Homo sapiens: one gene and its partners. The protein of the gene in region 1 purifies or fractionates together with the protein of each later gene. This does not show direct contact. Each region holds a gene or a part of one and is shown in the gene's direction. Other genes may lie near its edges. The genes, in order: ZC3HC1, SRBD1, POF1B and SERPINB5.

Region 1 (6,865 bases):
ACAGGCATAAGCCAGTGCACCTGGCCTGTTTTGCATGTTTTTAAGATGGGAGAAGTAATATCTTGCTGCTAATGGAAATGTGCAGTGGAGGGGAGAATTGGTGGACAATGTTCTTGAGTAGGCAAGGGGAATTAGATCCAATGTGTAAGTTTGGCCTTAGATAGGCACATAGATTACAGCAGGGCTTCTCAACCTGTGCACATATTGGGTGAGATAATTTTTTGTTGTGGCGAGGCTGTTCTGGATGTTGTAAAATGCTTAGCAACATTCCTGGCCTCTATCACCACTCCAACCAAAAATGTCTCCTGACATTGCCAAGTGTCCTGTGGCAGGCAATATCACACTCATTTGAGAACCACTGATCAATAGTAACAGGAGGGAAGGTAAAGTACGGTTAGAGGATGATGAGAACACCATTCATCATGCGAAATAAAAACACAAAGCCGGCCGGGCACAGTGGCTCATGCCTGTAATCCCAACACTTTGGGAGGCTGAGGCAGGCAAATCACGAGGTCAGGAGATTGAGACCATCCTGGCTAACACAGTGAAACCCCGTCTCTACTAAAAAAATACAAAAAATTAGCCATGCGTGGTGGCGGGTGCCTGTAGTCCCAGCTACTCAGGAGGCTGAGGCCACAGAATGGGGTGAACCCGGGAGGCGGAGCTTACAGTGAGCCGAGATGCGCCACTGCACTCCAGCCTGGGCGACAGAGGAAGGCTCCGTCTCAAAAAAAAAAAAAAAAAAAAACCACAAAGCCAAATTTCTTGCTTACTATAAACAGTAAGAGCCATGCAGGTGAGGCACAGTCTTCAAGCAGACCAGACTACTAATCTATCAGACTTTGAGAAAGTGGGGAGTTCAGAGATTGGCAAACTTTCAAAGGTGTGTGTTAGCATCATTTGTAGAAGTGATAACTTGGGTGAAACTATTGTTGAGTGGCTGGCACTCAGAGGAGTGCTTATTGAAGTGAGTCTTTGTGATTGGCTGAATCAAGAAGTTGTCATTCATTGGGTTTACAAAAACACATTCACTGTGATGAGTAATCATGGGTCAATTGAACTTAAAACTGGCTCTGATTGCTGGTTGTTACCATGGCTAACTGTACAGTCAGTATTTTCCTAGGAGTGTGTCATTAGCAGAAAGGGAGGATGGATAAGTGGAAGTATTGAAGGTGTTTGAGGAGAGAGGTATATAATAGTCATCTATGAAGGTGGGTGCAGTGGCTCACACCTGTAATCCTAACACTTTGGGAGGACGAGGTGGGCAGATCACTTGAGGTCAGGAGTTCGAGACCAGCCTGGTGAATGTGGTGAAACCCTGTCTCTACTAAAAATATAAAAATTAGCCAGGTGGCCAGGCATGGTGGCTCACGCCTGTAATCCCAGCACTTTGGGAGGCCAAGGTGGGCGGATCACCTGAGGTCAGGAATTCAAGACCAGCCTGGCCAACATGGTAAAACCCCGTCTCTACTAAAAATATGACAAATTAGCCAAGCATGGTGGCAGGTGCCTGTAATCCTAGCTACTCAGGAGGCTGAGGAAGGAGAATCGCTTGAACCCAGGAGGCAGAGGTTGCAATGAGCCGAGATTGTGCCACTGCACTCCAGCAGGCAGCAGAGGGAGACTCCGTCTGCAAAAAAATCAAAATAAAAATAAAAAATAAATTTAAAAAAATAAAAAATAAAAATAAGTCATCTATGAAAAGTGGGATGAGAAGTGGACTAGATAAAGGTAGTATAATTACTGGGCAGAATTAAGGTCCCACTTGAAGTCAAGAATATAAAGAGACAAGTTTGTCATTTCTCTTTAGCCATATTTAGTTGTATGGGTACAGAAGCAATAATAGAGAACTTACTTCAACTGTGATTGAGGTTTTGTCAAGTAAGTACTATTAAGCAAGAGAGGTTCAAGGAAATTCAAAGGGTATTCAAGAACATGTATTTTTTAGCTTATTTATTTTGCTTTTTATTATGATATTGTCAAACATACTTAATAGCAGAAAGAATAATATAATGAATCCCACAATTCTATCATCCAAGTCCGACAGTTTAAAATTTTGCAATATTTTTTCATCTATTCCTCCACATGTTTTCCTGGATAACTTCAAAGCAAATTCCAAACATCATATCAATTCACCTATAAACACTTCAAGATGCATTTCTAATAAAGAAGGGCTTTTAAGAACCATAACTACAATGCCATTATTACATATAGTGAAATCAACAATGTTTCCTTCATATTAACTAAGTCTCAACCCATGTTCAAATTTTGCAAAGGGATGATGATAACAATTAGTAATGAATTTAAGCTGGCTAAGAAAAGAAGAAACAAGGGTGGTGGTGGAGTTAGGAAGAGCAGAAAGGTAATTGGATCAATAGGTTGCAGGTCCTGCTGCTGGGAACACTGATAGAGTTAGGAGCCCACAGGTAGGGTGCTGGAAGGGTAGGAGGTGATCCCACTTTCCTCTTTGCCCATTGTTTAGTCACATCAGTCTTCCAACCTGGGGTGTTGGAAGATTCTGTACAGATTTCTTCCCTTCAATCTCATCCGTCTCAGCTCCAGTACCTGATTTTTCTCAGGAGAATGTGCAAACTAAATTAGATTCTCCTATTATAACCTTGGTACATCCTTGGAGCACTTGTAATCATAATTTTAAAACTATAGGAAAATTTGACATCTAACTCCACCAAGATCTACAGCTTCTTTGCTCACGACTGTCATTGCTAGTGCCTAGAGACTATCAATAGGATGCTTTCGGCCGGGCGCGGTGGCTCATGCCTGTAATCCCAACACTTTGGGAGGCCGAGGCGGGCGGATCACCTGAGGTCAGGAGTTCAAGGCTAGCCTGACCAACATGGTGAAATCCCGTCCCTACTAAAAATACAAAAAAAAAAAAAAAAAATTGCTGGGCGTGTTGGCGAATGCCTGTAATCCCAGCTGCTCGGAAGGCTGACGTAGGAGAATCGCTTGAACCCGGGAGGCAGAGGTTGCAGTGAGCCGAGATCGCGCCATTGCACTGCAGCCTGAGCAACAAGAGCGAAACTCCATCTCAAAAAAAATAAATAGGACGTTTTCAATAAATATTTGTTGGACTAAGGAAGGAGTATCAATAGTGTCAAATGCCACAGACTTCTAAATCCATCCATAACACGGTTTCCAACAAGGATTCTAAATTATTTGCTCTCCAATGAGGGTCACCATTTCCTCGCTTGTAGAAAGGTGCAACTTAGGAGGGTCGTATGAGTTAATTTATTTTTATTTTTATTTTTTTTGAGTCGGAGTTTTGCTCTTGTCGCCCAGGCTGGAGTGCAGTGGCGCAATCTCGGCTCACTGCAACCTCCGCCTCCCGGGTTCAAGCGATTCTCCTACCTCAGCCTCCCTAGTAGCTGGGATTACAGGCGCCCGCCAGCAAGTCCAGCTAATTTTTGTATTTTTGGTAGAGATGGGGTTTCACCATGTTGGCCAGGCTGGTCTCGAACTCCTGACCTCAGGCGATCCGCCCACCTCGGCCTCCCAAACCGCTGGGATTACAGGCATGAGCCACGGCGCCCGGCCGTATTAGTTAATATTACTTGAAAATTAAGTTGAGCCCCTCATCCCTGCTGAATTTGGACTGACAGCGTTCTAAAAATCTCTTATCAACCTAAATATGCTAGTTGATAAAGGAAACGATTAATCAAGATTGTCCTAAACAGTACAGCCCTCCTTAAGCTCGCTCTAAGGTTCTAAAATGATGAGAAAAGGCGTGGGCCCCGCGGTTAGACTTTCCCAGCCAGGCTGCCTCAAGAGGCGGATATTAACCTCCCAGGACGGAAGTTCCGGAGCCTTCAAACTCTCGGGGAAGCAACTCGGCAGCGGACCAAGATGGCGGCGCCCTGTGAGGGACAAGCGTTTGCCGTAGGGGTTGAAAAGAATTGGGGTGCAGTAGTTCGCTCCCCAGAAGGGACCCCCCAGAAAATCCGGCAGCTGATAGATGAGGGGATTGCCCCGGAAGAGGGAGGCGTGGACGCGTGAGTTCACGAGTTAACCCTGGGTCCGGCGTTGGAAGATTGAAGAAGGCTTGGGGAAGGGGTGGCGGGTTGGGGGAGGTTCCCCTCGGTCGGCGACTCGGGCAGTGGGGATGGCTTCTTAGAATCTGAAAGAAACTCTGGTTACTATGTTTGATCGGCTTTGATCTTCCCCTCGGGGTGTACCAGATTCCCAACCGCAGCCGAAATTTTGTCATCGGACATTATTTTTGGAAGTAAAGAGGACCGTTAACTGAATGAGTTCACTTGACTTCTCTTAATTGGGGATTCTTAACCTTTTTTTGTGCCGTGGACCCCTTTGGCTCTCTGGAGAAGCTTATTAACTCTCAGAATATTTTTAAATGCTTAAAGTAAATTACATAGGATTATAAAGGAAACCAGTTAGATTGGAATGTAGTTATCAAGATGGTAAAAGGAAAAAGTTACGCAGTAACAATGCTTTTTATTAAAGAGTCCATAATATCTAGTAGTATGTGTTGTCAACCATAATTTTGAAGTAGTGATGAGCACAAAGGTATTTGAAGACATGCAACCACCATAATGTGGGAACATTATTTCCATTGGTGACAAATTAGCAGGTACTGCTAATACTACTATGGTGTTTTTACCTTCATTCATAATTGAAGAAAATGCTAAATCTTGTCATTTAGAGAGAAATAAATGTCATTTTTACCCATCCAAGTTTATGGATGCTGTGAATTTTTTTTGGCCTAGAACCACACCCGCTTGAGGCTCTCTATGAATCTCTGAGAGTCTTAGAGTAAGTTTATTTCTTTTGAGCTATAATCGTTGATGTAATCCTATTTTTATTAAAATAATGCCTGTCGCCGGGCGCGGTGGCTCACGCCTATAATCCCAGCACTTTGAGGAGGCTGAAGCGGGCAGATCACGAGGTCAGGAGATCAAGACCATCCTGGCTAACACGGTGAAACCCCATCTCTACTAAAAATACAAAAAATTAGCCGGGCGTGGTGGCCCGCGCCTGTAGTCCCAGCTACTCGGGAGGCTGAGGCAGGAGAATTGGTTGAACCTGGGAGGCGGAGGTTGCAGTGAGCCGAGATCGCGTCACTGCACTCCAGCCTGAGTGACAGAGTGAGACTCCGTCTCTAAATAAATAAATAAATGCTTGTCTTTCAGCAATTCCCCAGGCACTGTTGAAATGCCTTCCACTGAAAATGAGAGAATTGCTTTGCTGAGTTTTTTTCTCCCTGATTTTTTTTTCATGAAATCTCCCGAAGATCTTTGATTCGAATTTTCTAATTGGTTCTTTTTTTTTTGGAAGGAGTGGGTATGAAAGGTCCCTCCAGGTAGAAATATCAAAATTGTTTTTTCTGCTGTTAAGAGTCGAATTTCTGCCAGGCGCTGTGGCTCACGCCTGTAATCCCAGCACTTTGGGAGGCTGAGGTGGGCCAATCACAAAGTCAGGAGTTACAGACCAGCCTGACCAACATGGTGAAACCCCGTCTGTCCTAAAGATACAAAAAATTAGCCGGGCCCACGCCTGGTGGTACGCGCCTGTAATCCCAGCTACTGGGGAGGCCGAGGCAGGAGAATTGCTTGAACCTGGGAGGTGGAGGTTGCAGTGAGCCGAGATCGCACCGTTGCACTCCAGCCTGGGCAACAGAGCGAGACTCCATCTCAAAAAAAAAAAAAGTCGAATTTCTGAAGAGATTCAAATTGTATAATGCATACTTGAAGTCTTGAGTCTTATTTTCTGTCTACTAAAGTTATGCCAAATACTTGTGGAGAACAGTGAGTGAGTGAGGAGAATAGTTTGCTAGGATTAGTGGAGCCCTGTAGAGGTAGAAATTGAAGTTTAGATATGGGTAAACTGTAAAGAGTTTTGAATGCCAGACTGAAAAATTTGGATTTTATTTAGTAAGTATTATAAAACCATTGAAAATAATAAGCTGAGGAATGACATGAGTAAAATGATTTTTAGGAAGCTTAAAATCCAGCGTTGGTGTGATTTATGATACGATGTGTAGAGAAGCTAGATAACATTTAAGCAGAGGGTACTGTGAAAGGTTTACCAACAGTTTTGCCACTTTATATTAGGAAGGACACGTCTGCCACATCCCAGTCAGTTAATGGATCACCCCAAGCGGAACAACCTTCATTGGAATCTACAAGCAAAGAAGCCTTCTTTAGCAGAGTGGAAACATTTTCTATATCCTTTTTTAGTTCATGTGAATTGCACTTTCTGCCTGCTTCTAGAATTCCTCCAAGGTATTACACCACTTACTGTGATGCTTTAAACTTAAGAATAAAACCTTGGTAAGAAATTATATAGGAAAGTCAGCATCCTAATATGTTATCACTCAGAGGGACAGTTGAGGTTATCTAACCTTTTCTTTTTACAGAAGAAAAAACTAAGAGCCTGAGAAAAGAAGAAATAATAACTAATACTTGTATATAGTATGTTTTTGTATATATTATCACATTCGATCTTGACCTTAAACCTATGAAAATAAGCATTATTATTATACTTGTTTTACAGAAGAGGAAACAGTTTGGGGCAGGTTATATGACTTGCCCAAGATGAACCTGTTAGCAAATGGCAGATCCAGGATTATAATCTAATGTTTTTTAGATTATTAGAGACTACACTACTATAATGTCTCTTTCTAGATTTTCCTTTGTGTATTAGCTACCTATTGCTGCATAGCAAATTGCCCCAAAACTTAGTGATCTTAAAACAACAAACAGTTTTTATTTCATAATTTCTGTGGATCAGGAATCCAGGCATGGCTTAGCTGAGTCCTCTGGCTCAGGGTCTCTCACAGACTGCAATTAAGGTTGGTCAGGGCACTGTCATTTCAAGGCTCAACTAGGAA
Region 2 (7,028 bases), on another chromosome or scaffold:
TAGTAATCAGAAATTTACTTGATGAGCATGGACTCAGAATAGGATGATGAGATAAATCCATTCGTTTGAGTTTATTGAATGTCCACTGTGGTCTAGGCATTATGCTTGTCACAATCACAATTGAATGTTTTAATAGCTTGAAGCTAAGACAGTGGCTGACAACACCCTTTATGATTGACACTTTCTTTAGATATGTCAATTCATTTGATTAGGTTATCAACTCTTTTAGGCCTGGGAGTTATTTTATCTTTATGTCTCTGCTCTGATCCATTCTATTTTGGGCAAAAAATTTAATACTCAGAGGGCTCTCTAATGTTCATTATTTTCAAGTTCAGATGGTGGTGGTGGCAGGTTGGCATTCAGGTGGAGGTGCTCTTTATTGTAGTTCTTAATATTTTTAATAGTGATTCTGGAAAAAATACTTGATAAAAGAGAAGATAGAATTTTGACTAAAATTTAGTTTGGGAATTGTTCATGTTTGTGCCATCTGCATCATTTAGGTAACGGAGAACAGACCAGCTTAGGGGTAGGGTCTTTATCTTATTTACACTATACCCAGTGCCGAGATGGGTGCCAAGTCTCATTTCTTCACACTTGAGCTGTCACTTGGATTGGGGGGCAGTGGCAGTGCAGAGTGTAGTCCCTAGACACCTGTGTGGGCTGCTGTGCGGACTCTTGTTAAAGAAAAATGCCTGACATTAGCCTGCTATCATTCTGTGTTCTATCCTCTACTCTTCAGCAGAAATTGGTGGCATGTGTAGCCTGTTGAGTTGTATGAGTGAATGAGTGTTACTTTTCTGTCTGCTAAGTGGTTGACTTTGATAGCAAGTTTTAATCTTGGTTTTCTGGCATGTGTAGACCTATCCTTTACTCATTTTTAAAAATTAAACTGCTTATTTCTAAATAGTTGACATGCAATGGGAAGAAATAATAGAAGAATTCCATGTACTCTTTATCCATTTTTTCCCGAATGGTAGCATCTTGCAAATCTATAGTAAGATGTCACAACCGAGATACATTGATAAAATCCACTGATCTTATTTAGATTTCTCCAGTTTTACTTGTATTCATTCATGTGTATGTATATGTATGTACTTGGTTCTGTGCAATTTTATCGCACATGTAGGTTTGTGTATCTACCATGACAGAAAAGTTCCATCACCACAAAGATGCCTAGTGTTGCCCTTTTATAGCCACACCCACCTCCCCCCATCATCTCTGACCCTTGCCAACCTCTAATCTCTTCAGGAATGTTATATAAATGTATTCATATAGTATGTAACTTTGAGATTGGCTTTTTTTCCCACTCAACATAATTTACTTGAGATTCTTCCAAGTTATTGTGTGTATCAATAATTTGTTCACTTTTATTTGTGAGTAATAGTCCCAGGAAATTGCTTTTTATCTTCTAATTCTCATATGTTCTCTTTGTGGTTTGATAGAATAGCTCTGTGGCTATTGCTGATACTGCTTTAGAAGACAGAAAAAATAAATTGGATACTGTACAGACTCTGAAAACAGCCAAGACAAAACAGAAATGTGCAGCGCAGCCACATACAGTTCGAAGGACTAAAAAGCTGAAAGTTGAAGAAGAAACCAGCAAAGCCAGCAACTTAGAGGGTGAGAGTAATAGTTCAGAGACACCATCCACAAGCACTGTGTGGGGAGGTACATGCAAGAAGGAAGAGAATGACGATGACTTTACATTTGGTCAGTCCGCTTTAAAGAAAATCAAGACTGAGACATATCCTCAGGGGCAGCCTGTCAAGTTTCCAGCAAATGCCAATAGTACTAAAGAGGAGGTGGAAATGAATTGGGACATGGTACAGGTATGTGCAGCCTTTTTCTGTCACTTTAGTTGTTTTGAGTGCTTTCTTTTTGACTAGCATAGGGGTTGTACTGTCTAAGGGAAGGGCTGGGGGTTTTCAATTCTCTCTTCAGTTTTGCCAGTGATTTCTGGAGGCTTTCCTACTTGTAACTTTCTTGGGTACACTGTTTTGTGTTGTAGCTAATCATCAGTTCTTCAGCTAAGATGTGTGGCCTCTCTTGGCCTTTGCTATGGTGTTTTAGTGAACATAAACTATATAGACAGATTGTACCAACTGGTTGGGCCCCCACAGGTTCATTGTTAAGTTTTTGCTTTGAACTTGGACTGTATTTTCCTATAAAAGCAGTGTAGGTGATTAGGTCACTGGCTGTTCATACATCTATTTAACCCTTAGTATAATGTTGTAATGTACTACAACAAGGCCTAGCGATTTTTGAAAGGAAATTCTGTAAGAATTCCAACTTGAGATGCCAGAATTATATGTCTTACTACAGGGGAAATCAGATTTCTCCCAGTTTTTTTGGCTGGCTTTGGGGACAGTATTGGAGACCCGAAGAGTAGCTAGTGAGCTTTTGTCTGTCCCAGCACATTCTGGGACCATTTTAGACTTAATTATGGTAGTGCCTCTCAGGGTAGGTGGGGGTGACTTCCCTCCCTGTTATCTGTCCCATGTGATTCTATTGTGTACTCTTTCCCTTGCTATGATTGTGGCTGTAGAGCTGAGGGCCTCTGCTGGATCCTGATTCCACTTCTCAATCTGGGACTGCCTGTGTGTCACAAATGTCTTTGTACCCATGCTGCCTTTTCTATTACCTCTTAGTAAAACGTAATTTTTTTTTTTTTTTGAGACGGTGTCTTGCTCTGTCGCCCAGGCTAGAATGCAGTGGTGCTCACTGTCAGCTCCACCTCCCGGGTTCATGCCATTCTCCTGCCTCAGCCTCCCGAGTAGCTGGGACTACAGGCACCTGCCACCACGCCCGGCTAATTTTTCGTATTTTTAGTAGAGACAGGGTTTCACCGTGTTAGCCAGGATGGTCTCGATCTGCCTGCCTCGTGATCTGCCCGCCTCGGCCTCCCAAAGTGCTGGGATTACAGGCATGAGCCACCACGCCTGGCCTGTCACTGGTAATTTTTAATCATGATTTTTCTTCTCTGTGGTGCACTAAGGAATAGAATGTTGCTTTACAGCTTTTCCTCTTACCTTGTTCCTGAATGAATAGTCCAAGGTATCTTGGAAAAACAGAGTATAATTAGGCTCCTTTCTATGCCTTCTTTTTCTTTGTTCATTTATACCTAGAAGGCAGTGTTTTAAAGTGTGGTCCATGGACTACCTGCATCAGATTCACCCTGAAGCCTTTCTTAAAGTTCTTGGTTCCAGACCAGGCCTACAGAGGCAGGTGGACATGTACCACTTCCCTTCTCTTTTCCTTTTCTAACGCTTTTTAAGGTTATTTCCATTGTTGACATAGATCCACCTCTGGTAGTTGGCAGTGTGCAGGAGGAAGTTAAGAAGTTTTAGACTGTGAAGTCTCTGGTCTTTGAGACTTGGTAATAAGTTATTCGTAGTAAAGAGCTACTTATTCTATGACTCTGCTTCCCACCCTCTGTTACAGGGAAAGAGATGTAGAAAATGGCCCTGCCTTAACCTTTTGTCTCTAGGTTACAAGTATATAAGCTCTTTATAATGAGCTTAAGTAGAAAAGAGTTTTTCACCAAGGACATAGGGACCTTTCAAAGAACAAAAGGGACAGAATGTGGTCAAGTCTCCCAAAGGACTTGAACCAGAAATTGGAAACTGTGAGGACTCAGAGAAGGTGCTGTTAGTTTTCTCTCTATCTGGTGTCTTATAATCACCAATTTCTGCTGCTTCTCTGTTTGAGTTATTATTTTCTCAGCAGATAAGATTTTCTTGCTTCTTTACAGAGGATAGAAAATGACAGCTCCCTAGTTTATTTGCCATTAGTTTTATTAGTTACGTAGACTAACCAGTTGCTTCTGTATTGCAGTTCCACATTTTTTTTTTTTTTTGTGAGACAGAGTCTCACTCTGTCGCCCAGGCTGAAGTACAGTGGCGCGATCTTGGCTCACTGCAACCTCTGCCTCCCAGGTTCAAGCGATTCTCCTGCCTCAGCCTCCTGAGTAGCTGGAACCACAGGCATGTGCCACCACGCCTGGCTAATTTTTTGTATTTTTAGTAGAGACACGGTTTCACCATGTTAGCCAGAATGGTCTCCGTCTTCTGACCTGGTGATCCGCCCACCTCTTTCTCCCAAAGTGCAGGGATTACAGGTGTAAGCCACCGCACTCAGCCTCCAGTTCCAAATTTTAAGAAGAAAGTCTGATTGGCTGAATTTGGGTCAGGTATCCATCTCTGGTCCAGTGCCTGGGGTGCTGAGGCCTCACTGTATTTTAGAAATATGGCTGCCAGGGCTGTGTGTGTGTGTGTGTGTGTGTGTGTGTGAGGGTTGTGGGTGTGGGTGTGTGTGTTAGGGTTGTGGGTGTGTGTGTGTGTGTGTGTGTTAGGGTTGTGGGGGGGTGTTCTCTGAGAAAAGGAGGGCATTTCTGGGCCAGAAGATGTCTACTTCAGGGTTCAGCTTTAGAATGTAAATTTATAAATCTAGGTGATGATTAGCCACTGTTGACAAATACTTAGGTTTCTTTTACCATAATACCTTAAGGTGTTGGTTTACAGATCTTTAATTGACAAGGGATCATAATACTTACCATTTATTTATAGATGACTTGTTATGAGCTCGGCTCTGTACTAGGCACTTTAGATTTGTTTACTACATTATCATGATGGATTAGTAGATGCAATGGGTTAACCATCAAAAAATCCTTTATGGATAGGAGTAAAATAGACAGAAAACAGTTTTGTTTGTTCAGAAAAACCATCTTAAAGTTAAAACTTACTGAGAAATTACTGAGAATTGACTCAAAGTATTTGTAGAATTTAGTTTCTAGTTTGCATCATTTCTCTAATAGGTATAACTGAAGGTGATTTCAGAGCTTTGAGAGAAGAAAATTTGTTCTGCAATCCGTTAACCTAGACTTTTAATGTTTGGTTAGGAATGAATATCTGGGTTCACTAATGCGTTCTGTAATGTCACTAAAATAGCAGCTAAACAAAGCCTTTTGGAAAATACATTCCAAGAGAAAGGCAAGATTACTTGCTGAATAGAATGAGGAGGGACAAGTGTATGATGAGCGATAGGTGCCCAGCTGCCAGAAGGTGAGTGACAAAGGAAAAGTAAAGAAAGAAAAGTTTTATTTGTAAGCTAGTAGCAGTAATGTCCTTTGTTGTGTTGTGGGAATAGTGACTTGGAAGCAAGTTGTCTCATTTAAAGGCACAAGAACTATTTTATGGCCTTTTGCCCTCTTAGAAAATATTTTGAAAATTATAGGCATGCTAGATTTTCCTTTTAATTCCAAGCAATTTTTTTTTCCTCTTCCTTTTTTGAAGTGAATGTTGACAGCTGAATGCCTATTCTCTGAGAATCTGGGCACTCCTTGCCTGTGAATTGGGAAGTGGTTTTTGGGACGCTGCCACCTTTGCTGAGCAATCTGATGGCAATTATTAAGCTCAGCATTTTCCTGGTGGGTTTAGGGAAATTGCCTGGGAAACTATTACATGTGAATTTTACATGTTTGGGTTCTTTTTATTTAACCAGTTGCAATTATCCTTCCTTAATTTTAACTTGAATTTTACAGACAATTATTGTGGTATATGTGGATTTCCTTTCCTATACTTTTAAAATTTCTCCGTAAACAGGAGAAACTTTGTCAGAGAGAAAGTAATTTTGTCTTAAAACTGTATTCCTGCTTGTAAACATGGTTGAGAACAGGGGTAGATGTTGGAAAAAGAGGGAACTGACAAGAATGAGAGTCAAGTAATACCAAGCCAGAAAATCAGAAAAGTCCTGAACATTTGGATAAGGATCAGACTCAACAAAATACCTGTAACATGCATATTATCTGCCACAAAATGTATGTCCAAATTCTTTGGGGGAAATCCTGAATAGTTATCTAGTTAGCAAGGAATGGTTGTGAAACTTAATTGTATGGAAATTATTAAGTATTACTAGTTGAACATGTGGAAATGTCATTTATATATCCTTTATTTTGTGTACTATTCCCCATGGCCTTGGCCACAATGATAACTTGGTCCTCTGTTTTTTTCCGTTCAAGGTGTATTTCTCAACTCTGAAAACTACAGATTTTTTTCAGGAACATCACTGTCTTGTTTGGAGAGGCAGAACTATATAGTCAACACTTGATTTAGTTTTAGGCTTGTCAAAAGGACAAAATTACAAGTTTAGTTTAAAGATCTCTGTTGGGTTTATGATTCTAGAATCAAGCAACACTTCATTTCATAAAATAGGATAAGTGTTCTAATGAATTAAGCAGGGGGGTTGGTTTTATAGATAGGACTAATGAAAGCAGAAACAACAGAAAGTGGATTGCTTTCCTTGTAAAGTGGAGAGAGGGAGACAGAAAAATAGAAAAATAACAGATAAAATGAAGTTACTTCAGTCTTTTTGTATAAGGATTAAAGTAGAGGGAACTTTATTATCATGCCTATTGAAGATTGAAACTGGCCTGTTTGATAAATTGGCTGTTATCATTCTTTAGATTTCTTGGAAAGTCAGATAACAACTTTGTTTTAGTTTGGTGACTAAAATTTTAGCCAGGGTGAGTTCATTTTGATTTTTAGTCTATGGAACATAGGGTCTATCGGGGCCTACTGCAGGAGCTTCATCCAAAACAATGGCTTCCTATAATGTTTTAACAGACATTATACATGAATGTATTTTGTTTCTATTTCCTGATCCGGGGTTGGGGATCACCAGGTCTTTTGACAGAAGCAACCTACTCCTTTTCAGCCCTTTCTCCCAAACTGCAAATGTGTGATTGCGACCAGAAACTAGTTTTTGTTAAAGTTATTTTGCAGATATGTTTTGGATACCATGAACTATAAGAATTTGAAGAAGTGACCAGCTACAGACAATTTTTGGGAAAATTAAACTGCTCCAAAGGTGGTTGTTGTCCAGTTTCTTTCGGGAGTGGTGAGTGTAGGGGAGTTGAGCAGCCATGTGTAATATCTTAGTAAAGTTTGCTAAACAGGGAGAAAAGGCAAACAAAACCTTTTTTATTAGCTGTTTTCCCTTTGTTGCAAGAGATTGTGTGGAATTGTGTGGAA
Region 3 (7,028 bases), on another chromosome or scaffold:
CATCCTGATACCAAAATCTGGCAGAGACAGAACAAAAAAGGAAAATTTCAGGCCAATATCCCTGATGAACGTCGATGCAAAAATCCTCAATAAAATACAGCAAACTGAATCCAGCAGCATATCAAAAAGCTTATCCACCATGATCAAGTCAGCTTCATCGCTGGAATGCAAGGCTGATTCAACATATGCAAATCAATAAACATAATCCATTACATAAACAGAATCAATGACAAAAACCACATGACTATCTCAATAAAGGCAGAAAAGGCCTTTGATAAAATTCAACACCGCTTCATGCTAAAAACTCTCAATAAACTAGGTATTGATGGGATGTATCTCAAAATAATAAGAGCTATTTACGACAAACCAACAGCCAATATCATACTGAATGGACAAAAGCTGGAAGCATTGTCTTTGAAAACCGGCACAAGACAAGGATGCCCTCTCTCACTACTCCTATTCAACATAGTATTGGAAGTTCTGGCCAGGGCAACAAGGCAAGTGAAAGAAATAAAGGGGATTCAAATAGCAAGAGAGGAAGTCAAATTGTCTCTGTTTGCAGACGACATGATTGTATATTTAGAAAACCCCATCGTCTCAACCCAAAATCTCCTTAAGCTGATAAGCAACTTCAGCAAAGTCTCAAGATACAAAATCAATGTGCAAAAGTCACAAACATTCCTATACATCAATAATAGACAAACAGAGGGCCAAATCTTGAGTGAACTCACATTCACAATTGCTACAAAGAGAATAAAATACCTAGGAATATAACTTATAAGGGATGTGAAGGACTTCTTCAAGGAGAGCTACAAACCACTGTTCAAGGAAATAAGAGAGGACACAAACAAATGGAAAAACATTCCATTGTTATGGATAGGAAGAATCGATATCTTGAAAATGGCCATACAGCTGAAAATAATTTATAGATTCAGTGCTAACCCCATCAAGCTACCATTGACTTTCTTCACAGAATTAGAAAAAATACTTTAAATTACATATGGAACCAAAAAAAGAGCCCATATATCCAAGACAATCCTAAGCCAAAAGAACAAAGCTGGAGGCATCATGCTACCTGACTTCAAACTATACTACAAGGCTTCAGTAACAAAAACAGCATGGTACCGGTACCAAAACAGAGAGATAGACCAATGGAACAGAACAGAGGCCTCAGAAATAATGCCACACATTTACAACTATTGGATCTTTGACAAACCTTACAAAAACAAGCAATGGGGAAAAGATTCCCTGTTTAATAAATAATGCTGGGAAAACTGGCTAGCCATATGCTGAAAACTGAAACTGGACCCCTTCCTTACACTTTATACAAAAATTAACTCAAGATGGATTAAAGACTTAAAGGTAAGACCTAAAACCATAAAAACTCTAGAAGAAAACCTAGGCAATACCATTCAGGACATAGGCATGGGGAAGACTTCATGACTAAAACACCAAAAGCAATAGCAACAAAAGCAAAAATTGACAAATGGGATCTAATTAAACTAAAGAGCTTCTGCACAGCAAAAGAAACTATTATCAGAGTGAACAGGCACCCTACAGAATGGGAGAAAATGTTTGCAATCTATCCATCTGACAAAGGGCTAATACCCAGAATCTACAAAGAATTTAAACAAATTTACAAGAATCAAACAAACAACCCCATCAAAAAGTGGCCAAAGGGTATGAACAGACATTTCTCAAAATAAGACATTAATGCAGCCAACAAACATGAAAAAATGCTCATCATCACTGGTCATTAGAGAAATGCAAATCAAAACCACAATGAGATACCATCTCACGTGAGTTAGAATGGCGATCATCAAAAAGTCAGGAAAAAACAGATGCTGGAGTGGATGTGGAGAAATAGGAACGCTTTTAGATTATTGGTGGGAGTGTAAATTAGTTCAACCAGTGTGGCGCTTCCTCAAGGATCTAGAACTAGAAATACCATTTGACTCAGCAATCCCATTACTGGGTATATACCCAAAGATTATAAATCATTCTACTATAAATACACATGCACACATATGTTTATTGCAGCACTATTCACAATAGCAAAGACTTGGAACCAACCCAAATTGCCCATCAATGATAGACTAGATAATGTGGGACATACGCACCATGGAATACTATGCAGCCATTAAAAAGGATGAGTTCATGTCCTTTGCAGGGACATGGATGAAGCTGGAAACCATCATTCGCAGCAAACTGACACAGAAACAGAAAACCACACACCTCATGTTCTCACTCATAAGTGGGAGTTGAACAGTGAGAACACATGGGAACATCACACACTGGGGCCTGTCAGGGGGTGGGGGGCTAGGGGAGGGATAGCATTAGGAGAAATACCTAATGTAGATAGATGACAGGTTGATGGGTGCAGGAAACCACCATGGCACGTGTATACCTATGTAACAAACCTGCACGTTCTGCACATGTATCCCAGAACTTAAAGTATAATAAAAAAAGAAAACTCTAGAAAAGAAGGAAAACTTATTGTATTTACCATATTTTTGCTTACAATGCTATATCTTCCTTCTTAATATTCCAAATTCTTTCTTTTATGATTTTCTTCTCTTTAGACAACTTCTTTTAGCTATTCTTTAAGGGTAGGTCTGCTAGTAACAAATTATTTTCATTTTCCCTCATCTGAAAATGTGAATTTCCCTCCATTCCTAAAGGATAATTTCACTGCATATAGAATTTACAGTTGACAATTATTTTCTTTTAGTACTTAAAAAATAGTATCCTAGTTCCTTCTGGGCTTCATGATTTGTAATGAGAAATCTGTTGTCATTTGAATTGTTATTCCCAATAATTAATGTTTTTCTTGCTGCTTTGAAAATTTTTAGTTTGTCTTTAGTTTTAAGAAGTTTGACTCTGATTTGTCTGGTAATGGATTTCTTTGGGTTTATATTGTTTGGGATATGCTCAGCTTCTTGAATATGTATGTTACCAGGTTTTACTAATTTGGGAAACTTCTCAGCCATAATTTTTTTGAATATTTTTTCAGCTCCATCCTCTTTCTCCTTTCCTTCCAGGACTCTGAACATGAAAGCTAGATATGTGGTGTACACCCACAAACCCTTAAGCTCTGTTTAATTTTTTCTAATCTATTTGTTTCTGATATTCAGATTATATACTTTATTTTATTCTATCTTTAAGTTCATTAATTCTTTCCTCTGTTCTCTCCATTCTGCTTTTTAGCCCACTCCTTGAGAGCTTTGTTGTTTTGGTTTGGTTTTTGTTTCTTTGTCTTGTTACTGTCCTTTTCAGTTCTAAAATTTCCATTTAGGTATTCTTTATGTCTTCTATTTATTTGCTGAGACTTTCTATTTTGTCATTGAGACAATGTGTTTTTACAGTCTCCTTGCAACTTCTTGTTGAAGTATTTATGATGGTTGTTTTATACACTTTATCAGATAATTCTAACATTTCTATTATCTTGATGTTGTCATCAATTAAGTGTTTTTTCTTATTGGTTGAGATTTTTGTTGTTCTTGGAATTATGAGTGATTTTCAATTGACCCTGAACATGTCTGATCTTGTTTGATCTCAGAAGCTAAGCAGGATTGAGCCTGGCTAGTACTTGGATGGGAGACCTGGCCATTTTTATGTTGTGACTCTCTGGGTCTCATTCAAATATTCAAATATCAGAGAAAGTGTGTGCACTACCTATTACTGCCAGCTGGTGGTGGAAGTTGAGGTTCCCCCACTCAGCTTCTCTTGATGCGATAGGGTGAAAGCCCAAGCTCCCTTCACAGTCTCAACTGACATCACAGTGCATGGAATTTCATTTTTGGCCAGTAGGAATGAAAGCACCATTCTTCACTCTGTCTTTTCTGACACCATCCCAGTGAATGGTGTTGTGTACCTCCCTAGAGCCTGACAAGGGGGCAGTCTAAGCTCTCTTCTTGGCCTTTGGTGGTCCGTGTGGAAGTAGAGTTGCAATTTCTTCTGTGGTGTTTGGCTAAGATAGAGTGGTTACTATCTAAAAGTTTTCTGTCCTGCTAGGCTGACCCTTTCATGGTCCTTTGGTTAGAGAGAGAAGGCTTTTCTCAGGACTTTTGTTGTCCATTGATGTAACTAGATCACCAGCTTGCCCAACACTGATCTAATATATGAAGCAAAAAGAAAATCCAGGAACTCACTGCTGTGTCATTTCTCAGGTCCCAAGATTCCTAACCAATCATTTCTCTTTTCACCAATTTGGGTCTTTTTATATTTGTTTTATATATAATGTCCAGGGTTTTTAGCTGCAATTAACAGGAAGGCTAGGGAAAAGTATTTTTTTTCTTTTTTCTTTCTTTTTTTTTTTTGTGAAGCAACAAAAGTAGAGATTTATTGAAAATGAAAGCACACTCCACAGGGTGGGAGTGGGCTGAGCAATTGGCTCAAGTGCACAGTTATATAATTTTATGTGGTTTAAATGTCCTCTAGAGGTTTCCCATTGGTAACTTGGTGTACACTCTATGTAAATGAAGTAGTGGCCCGTTATCAGTCGGATTGGTTGCAGAAAGTGACCAATCAGAGGCTGAAGTTACAAAGTTAAACCTTAAACAACGTCTGATTGGTTGTGGAAAGTATTTTTACTCCATCTTCCCAGAAGCTGAAGTTGTCTGTTTTTTAAACCATTTTTCTTTAAAGAAATAAGAATAATCTAGTAAAAGAGTTTCCCCTCTCTTTAAAATTTGAGATAAGCCAGGTGCAGTGGCTCACACCTGTAATCCCAGCACTTTAGGAGGCCAAGGCTGGTGGATCACTTGAGGTCAGGAGTTCGAGACCAGCCTGGCCAACACAGTGAAATCCGTTCTCTACTCAAAATACAAAAATTCACCAGGTGTGTTGGTGCATACCTGTAGTCCCAGCTACTTGGGAGGCTGAGGTGGAAGAATTGCTTGAACCCAGGGGGCAGAGATTGCAGTGAACTGAGATCATGCCACTACACTCCAGCCTAGGCGACAGAGTGAGACTCTGGTAAAAAAACAAAAACAAAACAAAAAAAACCAAAAATATTTAGATAGCTCTATACTTTAAAGTTAAACTTAATTATAATTATATTCTTCTCACCTCAGGCAAAATTCAGGCAGTTGGCAATACACTTAGGGAGATTCATTTTATTATTTGATTATTGACTGTCTCATCTCTTCTAATCTTTTAAATAAAGAATAATGTAAAAATTAAATTTTGCTGATAGAATTCTACTTTGTGACAAAGATGATACTTTATCATGGAAAAAATAATAAATATTTGTTATAAATACTAGCTATGCTATCTTCAGGAATATTATTTGGATTACTTAAACACACTATTGACAAAATGCCTTATATCACCTTTCTAATTTGCCATATCAAAGTAAAATTATTAATAAGTTTGCTAGTAGGAAAAAAAAAACTTTCACTTATATTGCCTATTTTCAAATGTTAATAAAACTAAACCATTAATCCTTTCTTCCTGCAGATGAGGGGTATGTCTGATAAGTCACTCCGACTAGTGCTGTCCACATTTAGCAACATACGGGAGGAGCTTGGACATCTTCAAAATGATATGACAGTAAGATTTATTTTGATTTTTTCCAAAGCCTTTCTAGTTACTAGCTTCCTAATACAGAAATAAAGATGTCCAGTATATGTTTTTAAAATTTAATATAGCACAATATTATGCTTATTCAGACAAAGCTAAATTATTTTCTTCAAACAGTTAATTGGCATTGAGAGAGGAGAAAAGAGGTATCCAAAGTATAAATGAAAGAATGTTGGATGTGCACTTATCATTTAGTTTACCACTAAGGCAATTTAATGCTTAAAGCCAGAGAGTCATCTGCAAAGTTAAAATAATCTGACTCATTGGAGGTAAATTCCCCCTTTTTCATAATTATAAAGCATACTCTGAATTTCCATTCAAATATAATAACTTGAAAACATTTTTCTCCAAAAAATTAATTTTTTTCCATTTTCTATTTTAATTGGTGTTCTTGGTGCCATCAGCTAGATACATTCAGAATGCTTTCCACACATTGAATAATGCCTTGAGGACTTTGGAGTAGTTTTGTTGTTTCTGGGTTATGATGAACATATTTAGACTCTAATTTAAAAATTTACCACTCGCTGGGATTAACGAGGACTCTTTGTAGATTGGAGGAAAACATTAAAACATTTCAGAGGGTTGTGCTTCATTTCATGTATAGTTAGTCCATCAAAATGTCTCTTTCAATGAAGGTTTTAGAAGTTTCAATCATTTCCTATCCCGTATTTTCTTAACTTTTAAGAATTCTGCTTTATTAAGCAAGTACAAATGAAACAAGTGCTTATTTAAATCTTCCAAGGTAAGCAAGTCTTTGTATTATGTGACTGTTAAGTTTTTGCAATTCTGAATCATAATAAATAATTTATGCTTCTAGTCACTGGAAAATGACAAGATGAGACTTGAGAAAGATTTATCATTCAAAGACACTCAATTAAAAGAGTACGAAGAACTCTTGGCATCAGTGAGAGCAAATAATCACCAGCAGCAGGTAAACTGATGCTTTTATTGGTGTTAATCTACATTGATAGCTTTTCATATGCACAATTACTGGCACATTGGAGTTATGAGATATAATCAAGACAGAATTAAATATGATGGAAAAATTTGTTCATATGAGAATTGAGTGGCTTTGGGTATTTCTAATGGCTGAAAGCCCTCTCAGAAAAACAGATAATCTTATCTATTTTAGATATAAAGTACATATGGGACACAATTATTTGTCTTGTTGGGTGACCAGAATTGTAGAAATACTAAAAATCTAGGTTCATGCATTTATTTAATGTACTAACATGTCAATGAGAAAAGCTGTTGTAGACCTTAATACATGTTTGTGCAATAAATAAATGACTGAAAAAACTCTAGATGAATTCTCTGGATGTCTGAGCAGAGAGAATTCCTAGGAAATTGTAAGTAGTCTCTAAGGATTACCCTCTTCCTGATCTTTACTCCTATGGCTGTCCCAAATTCTTGCTCAGTTACTAGTTGTCATGTAAATAATCAGG
Region 4 (7,028 bases), on another chromosome or scaffold:
TTTTGAAAATGTCAAAGATGTACCCTTTGGATTTCAAACAGTAACATCGGATGTAAACAAACTTAGTTCCTTTTACTCACTGAAACTAATCAAGCGGCTCTACGTAGACAAATCTCTGAATCTTTCTACAGTAAGTTGTTTAAAGCAAGTAGCAAGACTTAACTTTTTACAAGGAGTGGCATTTTCATGCTGTTAGACCTACAACTTTTTTTCAGTGAAATTCCTTTCTAGGATGTTCACTTGTGATTTGAGGCTTTAAATAAATAAATCCTAGTGGAGAGGTTGAGTATAGTGGGAATCAATTGCAGTCACATCTTCTAACTCAAAATACAGAGAAGCTTATGGGCTTTCCTTTTCTCTCTCAAATAAATCTTACCCTTTCTTTTACCTTCCTCTGAGAGAATGGAGAACAGAGTAATTAACTCTCTAATAAATGTAGCTCCATAGACAATGAGCTGTCTTACAGAGTGTAAGACAGCTAATGATTTAAACTTCTTTCTCCTTAAAGAGCAGGGCATATGGCCTGGGACAATGTTTTAAGCTCTCCACCTCATTTTTTATGCACACATTCTTCTGATGTTTCTCAAAATCAGTAAGAAAAATAATAACTATGAATTCACAATTTTCATCAGTCACAAATTAGTTTTGTTGGCTGGGCTGGTCAGATGGGGATCTCCACAGGCAGCTCTGGTTATATAAGTTTAGCCATTGCTCTAAGGAATCATACAAACACCACTACGGTACCCATTGTTGTAATATTTAAAAATCTGTATTTGAAACACACAGACAATATTCTAGACTACATGAAGTTTCCCTCTGTACTTCAGTAACACAGAGTTGATTTAGTTCCTGTTTGGATGGTCAGAATTTCAAGGTTTCCAAATCGAAAAGCTAGACTACCAGCTTTTAAATATTTTACCATGATTTTGCAACTTTCTGCAGTAGGTATTTTTGTGGTTAAGATCTTTTGAGGACATGGGTTACTAGATATTGTGAGTATATTTTTTGTTGCTTAAAGATACATACACACAACCATTTTTCTTCCAACAATCATCTGAAGAATTTAAAAAAAAAAACTGAGATGTGAGTTGAAGCCTGAGCATACAACATTTCTAGAAGCTCCCTAAATGATCATTAAAGAGACAATTAACACATTTTTATTGCTGGCAGTGAGGACAATGGAGGCCCTCCTTCATCTGGCTGAGGCTTTCTAATGTTTTCAGGTGAGATTGGTTCTGTCAGTCAATGGTGACAGTGAGTCCCAAGGTTGATTTGCAATTAACTGAAGCTAAGTTAATTGGCTAAGGCTGAAGCTGCTCTGAAGAAATTCAAGAAGCCCTGTGCTTGGAAGTGAACTGACATGACACTGAATCAAGTTATATTTAGTTTCACTGAACTTCCATGCAACATCTGGAATGATCTTAACCAGACTAGGAGTTGTAAAGTTTTGTTTTGTTTTTTTCCTTGGAGATGGAGTCTTTCTCTGTTGCCCAGGCTGGGGTGCAGCGGCATGATCTCGGCTCATTACAAAAGATTTTTTAAAAGACTGCTTTCCATTGCTCCTGCTAGGTGCACAGCATCTGCAAATTTACTAGTTAAAGGTCCAAACAAGTGTGCTCTGTGGAGGATCTCTTGCATAAGAACTATCTGGGTGTTAAAAGGGCAAGTTCTTCAGGCCCTTTTAACACCCAGGTAGTTCTGATTGAACCCAGGTAGTTCTGATTAAACCCAGGTAGTTCTGATTGTCAAGGTGGGAATGGGGTTTAGGGTTGCACATTTTAAATAAGCATTAGAATAAGAACTCCTGTTATGTTCTCTCCTGCATTGTGTTTCCAACCTTAATTTGCAGATGGCACACCTGGAAATTTTGTTAAAATGCATTCTGATTCAGTATGTCTGGGGTGGGGTCTGAGATTCTTTATTTCTAACAAGGTCTCAGGTGATGCTGTACACCACCTTGGACCACAGTTTGAGTAGCAAGGGTCTACAGGATATTTAGTTCAGCAAAGACAAGAGTTTTCTGCTCATAATTCTGTTTTCTATACATTTCCTATATTCTAATATATATGTATCTGTAGACATACAAAATTTTCATGTTTCTGAAATTACAACCCATAAGAGAATTGGGCATATTTAACATAGTGTTTTCCCCAAAGCTGATATTAAATTGATAGATGCATTTAATAATTGAAATTGTCTTATAATTGAAAAAAATGAAACATTCAATACAAAGAAATTCACTGACTTCTACATGAGGTTTCAATTCATATAGTGTTACCAATTTTGAAAGTGTACATATAGCAGTTGATATTTAATAATCCTTTTGTTAGAAGAGAATAACAATGCAATAGCTTGACTACAGACTCTGATTTTATGAACTGCATGTTTTTCAGGAGTTCATCAGCTCTACGAAGAGACCGTATGCAAAGGAATTGGAAACTGTTGACTTCAAAGATAAATTGGAAGAAACGAAAGGTCAGATCAACAACTCAATTAAGGATCTCACAGATGGCAAGTACCCTTTAATTGTTCTGCTATCAATCACCAAGTAAACAGGGCCTTCCATCTCATAAATGTTTGCTCCAAGGATAAAAAAAACATCTGGAGGATTCTCTGGATATTTTTACTACACAAGCTAAATTCTTTCCCTTCAAGCCTGTAAACAACTTGGATTTCTGGGCAATTCTTGTATCATCTCATCACTTGGTAGAAACTGTTGATGCTTCAGTGTTAGTTTACTTTGTCTTGCTCTCTGACGAGCTGTCACAGGCCCTAGTGGAATCCTAGCTGCGCCTCTAACAAAGTATGACTTTGGGCCAATCATGAGGCCATTTTTCAGTCTGGAAATAGAGGGACTGGATTATAACTTCATGATCCCCGAGGCCCCTTTCAGCTGACAAATTTTACAAATTTGTTAAGGAAAAAGGGACATAGGCAACATATGTAAAAGAAAAACCGGCTGGACGCGGTGGCTCACGCCTGTAATCCCAGCACTTTGGGAGGCCAAGGCGGGCGGATCACGAGGTCAGGAGATCGAGACCATCCTGGCTAACACGGTGAAACCCTGTCTCTACTAAAAATACAAAAAATTAGCCGGGCGTGGTGGCGGGCGCCTGTAGTCCCAGCTACTCGGGAGGCTGAGACAGGAGAATGGCGTGAACCCGGGAGGCGGAGCTTGCAGTGAGCAGAGATCGCGCCACTGCACTCCAGCCTGGGCGACAGAGTGAGACTCTGTCTTAAAAAAAGAAAACCAAACCAAACAAAACCGTAGTGTCAGCTTGTCCTCGGTGCCGCAGCTCCCCATGCTGGTCGTTCCTCTGATAGCCCCGGGGTCCAAGAAGCTCCTAGGTTCTTTCTCCGGCTCAGTGCTTCCCCCAGGCGTCTCCCTCGTCGGACTCCTCGTCCCTCCCTTAAAATTGCCGGTGAGTCGTCTTCCTTGCTGGAAAAGAATTAGGGTTATGATGATTTTGAGGGCAAATCAGTGACTTTGTCCCCCTCCCCAGTGGATATATTTATAATTGCATCTGGAGGGACCCGTTGGGAGGCCGGGCCGAATCTAGTCATGAAAGAATGAAGCCTAGGCAGTCGCTGCTGTCTAGGGAGGGATACACTTCCGGGGCAAGGGAGACCCACTTCCTGCGAGAATGACTGGCGCCCCCAGCTACTCTGTCTCTGTACTGACTGAGGAAGTTCTAACAGGACAGTAACTGCAGGATGAGAACATGGGAAGAACAGGGTCTCTGGAGTCATTCAGCACCTAGGTTCAAATCCAGACACTGGTACTTACTAACTGATATTTGGACACAAAGCTTCAATTTACTGAACTGTAAAATGAGGCACATGTTACCTGATTTAATTTTTAAAATTGTATTATATTGTGTTTTATTTCAATAGGTTTTGGGGAACAGGTGGTTTTTGGTTACATGGATAAGCTCTTTAGTGGTTACTTCTGAGATTTTGGTGTACCCATCACCCAAGCAGTGTACACTGTGTGCAATGTGTAGTCTTCTATCTCTCACCTCCTTCCACTCTTCCCCCACCCCACAAAGTCCATTATGTCATTATTATGCCTTTGCATCCTCATAGCTTAGCTCCCACTTATAAGTGAGAACATACAATGTTTGGTTTTCCATTCCTAAGTTACTTCACTTAGAATAATGGTCTTCAGACCAGGCATGGTGGCTCATGCCATAATCCCAGCACTTTGGGAGGCCAAGGCAGCTGGATCACCTGAGGTCAGGAGCTCAGGACCAGTCTGGCCAACATGGTGAAACCCCGTCTCTACTAAAAATACAAAAATCAGCTGGGCATGGTGTCACGCACCTGTAGTCCCAGCTACTTGGGAGGCTGAGGCAGGATAATCGCTTGAACCTGGGAGGCGGAGGTTGCAATGAGCTGAGATCGCGCCATTGCACTCCAGCCTGGGTGAGAAGAGAGAAACTGCGTCTCCCAAAAAAAAAAAAAAAAAAAAAAAAGAATAATGGTCTTCAGCTCCATCTAGGTTGCTGTGAATGCCATTCTTTCTTTCATTTTTTTTTTGAGATAGAATGTTGCTCTGTCGCCCAGGCTGGAGTGCAGCGGCACGATCTTGGCTTACTGTAACCTCCGCCTCCCAGGTTCAAGGGATTCTCCTGTCTCAGCCTCCCAAGTAGCTGGGGCTACAGGTGCGTGCCACTACGCCCAGCTAATCTTTGTATTTTTAGTAGAGATGGGGTTTCACCATGTTGGCCAGGCTGGTCTCAAACTCCTGACCTCAGGTGATCCACCCGCCTCAGCCTCCCAAAGTGCTGGGATTACAGGTGTCAGCCACCGCATCCAGCCATGAAAAGACTTCTGAGTTTGAAATGGGAGGCTCAGGGTTGAAGTTGAAGCTCTGTCGTTTACCGGCTCCCACACTTCTTTGTTCTTCAGGTTTCTTCAATAACACTAATATATATTTAACATATTATATAGCATTGGCAGGACCAGTTACATAATTTGCATGGTCCAGGGCAAAAGTAAAAATGCTGGGCTTCTTGTTTAAACATTTATTAAGAATTTTGAGGTAGTGACAGCTGAACATTAAACCAAGTGCAGGGTCCTTCACACAGGGGTCACAGGCCTGTGAAGTGGGCCCTGAACATTGGTCTGAAAATTGGAGATTAGGTGAATGAAAACCCTTTATAAAAAACCTGTGGGCTATTCAAATGTGAGGAGTTCTTTTTATTAAGGGATCACTCCCCTTGAATTGTTTTGGCTATTGGGATTTAGCTTTATAATAACTGCAATTGTGATTGAGCCCTATGGTGATTACAGTTGACCTTGAGGCAATCAGCCTGCCCGCAAGGAGTGCAATTGAGAGAGTGGATGGAGAGCTGTGGGGTGAAGGGGACAACCTTCAGACATGTTTTCCAGCTGAGGAAACTAGAACAGCTCCTTGGCCTCTCTGAGCCTCAGTTTACTGCACTGTAAAATGGAGATAATGATCTTTGCCTTATAGGACCATTGTGAAAAGACTGAGATAATATATGTGAAATTCTGCCATAAAGAAAGTGATTACGTATTTTCATTCAAGAGCACAGGCTTTGGAGTCAGAAAGAGCTGGCTTTGAATCCTGAATCCACCCTTGTTTATATATCATCCTTGAAAGTGACTTATCATCGCTGAGTCTCAGCTTCCTCATTCATAAAGTAGGAAGAAATATATATAATGTGTATCAAATAGCTTGTATACTGCCTGACACAGAATAGGCATTCAGAATGGTAGCTGTGCTTTCCTTCTTATTTCTCTTCCTTTCTTCCCTGCTCCTTCATTCTCCTCTGCTGACCTCTTTGGTAGATCTGGTTGTGTCAAGGTAGAAGGAGAGAAAGGAGTCCTTCTGAAATTTGATGGTTGGAACCATCAGGCCTTACATGGTGTGACTCCATGAAGTGGTAAATACTCAGTGAATATGCATGTGAATTTCAGATGTAGTTTGGAAGAATAATTCTGCTACTTGTGTTTTCCTAAAATTGTTGCAGGCCACTTTGAGAACATTTTAGCTGACAACAGTGTGAACGACCAGACCAAAATCCTTGTGGTTAATGCTGCCTACTTTGTTGGCAAGTGGATGAAGAAATTTTCTGAATCAGAAACAAAAGAATGTCCTTTCAGAGTCAACAAGGTATGTGGGGCAGCATGTAGCAGTAAAAGGAGCCCAATTATAGATGTGAAAAATGATAGGGACAGAGTGGGGCATAAATCCATTCCAATGAGGAACCTGAGGGCACGGCCGGCAAAGTGCCTTTCCTGAGATGAACAGCTGGAAGGTAAGTGGTACAAAAAGAGCCAGAATCCAGAGGCCCCCCCTCCTCTTTTCCATAATGTCTTCAAGGATCTGAGCTGAGTGAAACTTTATAGAATTTGTAACCCAGCGAGGAAAGCTAAGTCACCAGCTGAAAAATAGCTACAAACATCTGAGAACTTTAGCAGAAAAGGAAAAGACCAAACTCTGTTATCAGAGGACTTTGGATTATCATGAAACCTTGACATCTAGGAATCTTGTTCCTGATTGATTAACTTCTCTAACATCTCATTTCCTTATCGGTTGATAGCGAAGTATATTGTTCTGGGATTTTAATTTATAATTTATAAGATGCTTTGATGGCTGGGCGTGGTGGCTCATGCCTGTAATCCCATGACTTTGGGAAGCCGAGGAGGGCAGATCACCTGAGGTCAGGAGTTGGAGACCAGCCTGGCCAACATGGTGAAACCCTGTCTCTACTAAAAATACAAAAATTAGCTGGGCATGGTTGTGGGTGCCTGTAATCTCAGCTACATGGGAGGCTGAGGCAGGAGAATCAGACCCTGGGAGACAGAGGTTGCAGTCAGCCGAGACTGCACCACTGCACTCCAGCTTGGGCAACAAGAGTGAAACTCCACCTCAAGAAAAACAAACAAACAAACAAACAACAAGACCAGATGCTTTCAGGCACTTGTTGGCTGTGAAAAAACAAAGTATGGCTTACTCATTGACATCACTGGAAGTCATTATGGGAAGAATTAAGGGC

The links.
Region 2: the proteins of ZC3HC1 (region 1) and SRBD1 purify together in Homo sapiens (affinity purification with mass spectrometry; 2 studies listed by BioGRID and IntAct, with this or other methods). This does not show direct contact.
Region 3: the proteins of ZC3HC1 (region 1) and POF1B purify together in Homo sapiens (co-immunoprecipitation; 2 studies listed by BioGRID and IntAct, with this or other methods). This does not show direct contact.
Region 4: the proteins of ZC3HC1 (region 1) and SERPINB5 purify together in Homo sapiens (co-immunoprecipitation; 2 studies listed by BioGRID and IntAct, with this or other methods). This does not show direct contact.

The regions. Positions count from the first base shown.
Region 1 is NC_000007.14:130,048,366-130,055,230, reverse strand, and holds the start of ZC3HC1 (zinc finger C3HC-type protein 1), read left to right. Parts: upstream 1-3,856; 5' UTR 3,857-3,864; coding exon 3,865-4,010; intron 4,011-4,742; coding exon of another isoform or gene 4,743-4,788; intron 4,789-6,086; coding exon 6,087-6,198; coding exon of another isoform or gene 6,199-6,257; intron 6,258-6,865. UniProt on the Homo sapiens protein: Required for proper positioning of a substantial amount of TPR at the nuclear basket (NB) through interaction with TPR.
Region 2 is NC_000002.12:45,594,250-45,601,277, reverse strand, and holds part of SRBD1 (S1 RNA-binding domain-containing protein 1), read left to right. Parts: intron 1-1,442; coding exon 1,443-1,829; intron 1,830-7,028.
Region 3 is NC_000023.11:85,306,649-85,313,676, reverse strand, and holds part of POF1B (protein POF1B), read left to right. Parts: intron 1-5,460; coding exon 5,461-5,553; intron 5,554-6,400; coding exon 6,401-6,514; intron 6,515-7,028. UniProt on the Homo sapiens protein: Plays a key role in the organization of epithelial monolayers by regulating the actin cytoskeleton. May be involved in ovary development.
Region 4 is NC_000018.10:63,486,954-63,493,981, forward strand, and holds part of SERPINB5 (serpin B5), read left to right. Parts: coding exon 1-130; intron 131-2,393; coding exon 2,394-2,511; intron 2,512-3,660; exon of another isoform or gene 3,661-3,779; intron 3,780-5,999; coding exon 6,000-6,142; intron 6,143-7,028. UniProt on the Homo sapiens protein: Tumor suppressor. It blocks the growth, invasion, and metastatic properties of mammary tumors.